Regions from separate parts of the Homo sapiens genome. Here region 2 is linked to region 1. Evidence: fine-mapped expression QTL. A gene starts in region 1. The other region holds a variant in brackets. All regions are shown on one strand. Distances are between the middles of the regions. Region 1 holds the start of TREM2 (triggering receptor expressed on myeloid cells 2). Region 2 holds the start of LOC107986595 (a long non-coding RNA gene).

Region 1 (2,907 bases):
TGACCCAAGAGGCTACATACTATTTAATTCCATGTCTATGACATTTTAGGAAGGGCAGGAAGCTACAGAAACAGATGTCAGCTTAGTAGTTGCCAGGCCCTGGATTGGAGAGAAAGAGACTGGCTAAAATGGGCACAAAGGCTCTCGCTTAAGCTAAATGAAACTTTCTATATTATGGTATTGTGTTACACAGACATGGTGATTGTGGTGGTTGTTATAGAGATGCATGAGTTTGTCAACATTTACACAACTAGACATTTAAAAGGGGTAAATTTTTGTATATGTAAATTATGGGCCAATAAACCTGACTTCTAGAAAAAGACCCTAGAAGAGTACCTACAGAGTGATCTTCAGGCAGCCTCAGACTTCAGCCCCCAGGCCCTTGGGGCAAGGCCGGGCAGTTGGCCCTTTGAGTGGAGGCCTGTCTTCTCCTCACTATGAATTCCCCATCTCCAAGCACATTCCCTGTCCGTAAGTTAGATGCACAGTAAATATGAGTAAATAAATGAATAAAAGAACAAATAAGTGAGTGTTTGCAGGAAACTAAAGTAGACCCTGATAATCTACAGGCTCCTGCAGGCTTCTCCAGCCTCTTCTGCCACTCCCAGCACAACTCCATTTCCCACTCCTAGAATTGACTCAAGCCTCCTCCATCCAATCCCCGACTCACTGGGCCATTTCACACTTTTGTGCCTTTGCACACGTGGGTCCCTGTGCTTGGATCACCATGGGAACCTGTACGTGTAGAAAAACACACCCCTACCCCCAGAACTCTGAGAAATATCCTGTCCTGTCCTGTAGGATAGGATGATCAGGAGTTCAAGCATGTGTGTGCACAAAATAAACACCAGTGTGAGCATGTGTGCACAGGAGACACCCAACAGTTCCAAGAAGGCTAAACTTGGGCAGAAAATTCCAGGTGGGAGAGAAAATTTTCTGTCTTATGGACAGCCCATTTCCCTTTTCCCTTCTAACTAGGATAATGGTAATAGTTAGTATTTGTTGAATGCTGTGTGTCAGGCCCTACTGGAAAGCACTTTACCTGTAGGAACCCATATGGTGCTCCTGATAACCCTTTGCACTATCATTATTCCCACTGTATAGATCAGGGAACAGACACAGGTAGGTTTTGGATGTGTGGTTACACACCCAGAAAGTCAGGAAGTCTGGCTCCAGAGCTGTGTACTTAACTGCTGCCACACTACAGGAATGACAGCCCTGGGGGGATGAACTAAGAGGTGCTGGATGAGGGTCCTGGCCTCTAAAGGCACAGCTGTTCTCCAACTCTTGCAAGGCTGAAACCAGAAGATGGCGGGCATTGCAGCTGGTGGAGGGTCTGAATACAGCTGTGAGGATAGTGATCCCTGGGCTAGGCTCTGCAAGGAAACTGAGCAGTGCAGGGCCTTACCAGCCCCAACCATCTGGGGGCCACCCTGGCTGGCACCAGCAGGAGGGTGGGCTGGCTTCTCAGAGGTCTGGGAGACTCAGCCTCCTTCTGCCAGGGCTGCAGTGGCCGACTCCTCCTCCCCTCTGTCCCCACCCTGCACCGCCTCCAGACCCCAGTCCTGACTATTGCTTAATCCCCAGGAGCCCAGTTCCTGTGGGCAGCGCCTGACATGCCTGATCCTCTCTTTTCTGCAGTTCAAGGGAAAGACGAGATCTTGCACAAGGCACTCTGCTTCTGCCCTTGGCTGGGGAAGGGTGGCATGGAGCCTCTCCGGCTGCTCATCTTACTCTTTGTCACAGGTAGGATCCCCTCCGTGCCCTGTGATGCCTTCTCTCCCTCACTTTGAGCATGTGGTTGGGGCGCGGGTGGTGGGCCCTGGGGTGAATTATGAAGGCGGTGGCAGTCCTCGCATGCCTGAGTGCCCTGTTCTGCACTCCTCTCCTCCCCACCCTGCCCATATTCTTCACACCCTCCTTCCCTCCCCAGTATCAAAACCTACCCTCAGACTCTTTCTGCATGTGGACATGTAAGGGGCTGGTGGACTCTGGTTGCATTGGAAGGGAAGGAGTGCTAACAGTGGCATCCCAGGCACTAGCTGGCAGTTGGGGGAAGCTTTGGGGGGCACTGGCACTGGTAATAGCCTCTGAAATTATAAGCCACTAATTATGAGCCCCTACAGTTATAAAGGAGGAAAGAACCTGAGGATGTTCATCTGCATCTTTGGGGCACTCTCTCCCCTGCTCTGAAGGTCCCCTTGTCCTCAGCTCTTGATGGGAGGTGAGGAGCGTAGAGATTTCCGTTGCTGAGTTGAGGGGAATTGACACACCAAATTTTTGTACACAATTGCTTCTTCCCGCTGAGGAAAGCGCACCTTTTGCTCCCCCAGAGCACTGGACAAACCTGGGCAAGAGGAGAGACGGTGCCAAATGGAGTCTTGTTCCTGCAGCTTCTTAGATGGTGGTCAGGGGGAAGGCGGGGTTCTGAGGCATGGATGGGAGGTGGTCAGATGGGAGAGGGCCACGGCCCATCTGGTCTCTCTAGTTCCAAAAGGCAAGCCACCAACTTCCCAATCCTATCTTTCAAGCCTCTGTCACAGTAATGGTTGAAGATGGCAGGCAAGGGAGGACCAAGAGAGAAGTCAAAGCAGGGGGCTCTGGGGGCTGCCCCAGCAACAGGCTGGTGCTCTAAGCCCATCTCCCCCGCCCTAAGGAGGGTTCCCAAAATAGCAGCCTCATGTCTCCCCCAAAATATCTCCGAGACGGGTCCTTCCTGAAAGGGGAACAAAGCCACAGAAATAGGGAAGCTGGAAGTTAAAGGTCAGGAAAGTCGGTACCAATGTGGGCGGCTGCAGAGCAAGCAAGAGTGGCGGGGCAGGGAGAGCCAGCCCCAGGCCGAGAGGAGAGGTCCCAGTCCCAAATGATGGCAAAGAGATGTGCAGAACAGAACTGGAGGGGGTTTTA
Region 2 (2,907 bases), 22 kb before region 1:
AAACTTCAGGCTGGGGAGGAAGTGGTAGAATAGAGGGGAGAGAGGAGAAAGAGGTTTTTATTTCGCCATAGTTTCCTCCTGGACTTTCTCAGCTTTTCCCACCCCAGCGCCAGTGGGAGGGAGGTGGCCTGACAAGTGGGAAGAGGCTGGGGCCAGAGGAAACCAGCAGGAGCTACAGAGTATAGGCTGAGGCCTTTCCAGGCCCGGATGTAGAGCCTGCAGCTGGAGGGGCTCGTGTAGGCCAAGGCGTCCCCCTTCCTTCCAGGCCTCCTGCTTCCTCAAGGGAGACTTTGACTTCCTCAGCAATTCATCCCCAGGGCCGGATCCTGCCAGCGCTGGTTCCCGCTCCCCAGGGTTTCCCCGCTGCCTCACTTTCCTCCCACCATCCCGGCTCAAGAAGAGGACCCATGACCTTGGAGGCCACACACCTGCTGTTGAGAGTTCTGCTGGTGCTCCTGGCCTCAGGTGAGGGGAAGGGGAGCAGGGCCAAGGGAGGGGGACAGGAACCTTTTTCTTACAGGGTTGTTGTGAAGATTCAAGGAAAATACGGACTTGAAGGGCCCAGTTCAATTCATAGCACATGACCAGGGCTGTTTCTTTCACCTCTGTCCTCCTTCCAGCCCTTGTCCGTGAGCAGGAGAGCTATTCCAGAGTACTGTGGGTCTAGGGAAAGGGCACACTGTGTAGTTACCACAACCTGTGGCCTGCTTTGTTTTCTACCTCTGCCTGATGGTTTCCAGGCCCCAGCCACGGGCACTGACAGTGTCTTCCTGCCTCTGTCCTCCCCTCCCTTCTCTCCATCCACCATCACTCCAGATGATGAATGCTGGGCTCTTGCAAACCATACTTTCTTGCATCAAGAGATTAAACCAGAAACCAAGGGGTGCTGATCACCTGAGCTGAGAGATGTTCCTGAACTGCTTGTCCTCCCCCTTTGACATCTGACAACCCAGACACCTTCCCTAAAAGCCTGCTATGGTATAAAACAGTCTACCTCTGTGTTCTTCCTTTGACTTAAAATGGGACCTATTAAAATGTATTTTTTATCTGGGAGAGCTATTTGTCAATGACATCAGTATACTCTGAGAGCTCACTGCATTTCCTAGAGAAGGGTTGAGCTTAAGGACCTGAGACAGAAATGTGAAGCAAAGGGTGCCAGGAGAGCTGGGTGGAGACCCTGCAATAGGGGCCCAGATAGAAAGCCAAGGGATAACAATTGCAAAAGGGAAAGAGCAAGGACTTGAGATAGCAGTTTTGCACAGAAAGAAACCGACCCTGAGGTGGAATGGCTTACCCTAGACAACATGGTTTGTGGGGAAGAGCCCCTGATCACATGGCTGCCTACTGGTCAGCTGAGCCGAAGGAGACCTCAGAGGACAGGCTAGAAGCTGGGGAGGGCCTGTGGTGACAACAGGCATGGCAGGAGGGATGAATTTCAGGGCAGGAGGTTGGTCTGGGCTCTGACTTTCCTCATCAGGCGGGTCCTTATTCCAAAGCCCCCCAGTCAAGTCCATCATCCTGGGTGTGGCAGTGACCGTTGTGCTGCTGCTGCTGCTGCTTGCCCTCCTCATCAACCGGTACCTCCAGAAAGCCCGAGGAAGAGCTAGGAAAGTGAGTCCTGGTCACTGGCTCTGAGCAGACAGCCAAGTGCTTAGCGAT[T/C]TCTAGGGCAGCCTGAGAGCCGTGAGGACAAGGATTGTTTTTTTATTTTTTTTATTTTTTATTATTGTACTTTAAGTTCTAGGACACATGTGCACAACGTGCAGGTTTGTTACATATGTATACATGTGCCATGTTGCTGTGCTGCACCCATTAACTCGTCATTTACATTAGGTATATGTCCTAATGCTATCCCTCCCCCTTCTCCCTACCCCACGGCAGGCCCCCGTGTGTGATGTTCCCCACCCTGTGTCCAAGTGTTCTCATTGTTCAATTCCCACCTATAAGTGAGAACATGCGGTATTTGGTTTTCTGTCCTTGTGATAGTTTGCTCAGAATGATGGTTTCCAGCTTCATCCATGTCCCTACAAGGACATGAACTCATCGAGGACAAGGATTCTTATGCTCATTTTACCAACTAGGAAACTGAGGCCTGAGAAGTAAAGTGGCCAAGATCCCCTGGGAGCCCCAAATGGCTTCCCTTCCTTCTGCCAGAGCAACAGCCTGGGCAGCCCTGAGGGCGGTGGACTCATCATCTTCTAAGGCTCCAGGTCAGCTCACCCAAAGCCAATTCAACTCAGTGCCAATTTGTCTACAACTAGGTGTGCTAGTATCCATTTTGGATCATGTATTTTTTGCCAACTTTTAGGTTAAGACTTTTAAAACAAATCTATGTAAAGATGTTCCTGGTTCATGGTATTGTTTTTTAATTGTTTTTATCATTTAAAAATGTCGTCTTCCTAAAAGCACTTCCAGGACTTTTTAATCTTCAAAGTTTTAAGTTTTTAGCATTAATCACATATGAAATCTGTAGCATCTTGTCTAAGATTTATCAGATTAGTCCCCTTTAATGAATGTTACCTCCTTTCTTGCTGTTTTATGTTGGTTGGTTGGTTTGACACATAGGTACTGTGTGCTCAATAGCCCTATACTGAAGATGTTTCTGTTGACAAAAAGACTGAAACGTGGGAGTGGGCCAGAGGTATATTGGACTTCATTGGTTTTAATTATTCAAGCTATGAAAATCCAAAGAAAGCAGTGGGTTGTAAAATTTTATATACCTATTTTTAATCAGTGTAAAATCAATTTAATAGGTCACAACAGGATTTTTATAAAAACATAATAGAAGAGCATAATGTCATAATGCTTTACCCTTTTTTTGTTAAACTTTTATTTTAGGAGTGTGTGTGAATATGTGTCTGGGTGTGAGAGTGTATGAGTGTGTTTGTGTAAGTGGTAGATAAATTGTGA

Evidence for each region.
Region 2: its variant is fine-mapped to the expression of TREM2 in blood mononuclear cells (TOPMed, PIP 0.98).

The regions. Positions count from the first base shown.
Region 1 is chr6:41,161,882-41,164,788 of GRCh38, reverse strand. TREM2 (triggering receptor expressed on myeloid cells 2) reads left to right here and starts at 1,673. Exons shown (of 5, transcript NM_018965.4): 1 at 1,673-1,746. The coding sequence starts at 1,707.
Region 2 is chr6:41,183,535-41,186,441 of GRCh38, reverse strand. LOC107986595 (a long non-coding RNA gene) reads left to right here and starts at 53. Exons shown (of 3, transcript XR_001744118.2): 1 at 53-465. The variant T/C (reference allele first, on the strand shown) is at 1,660.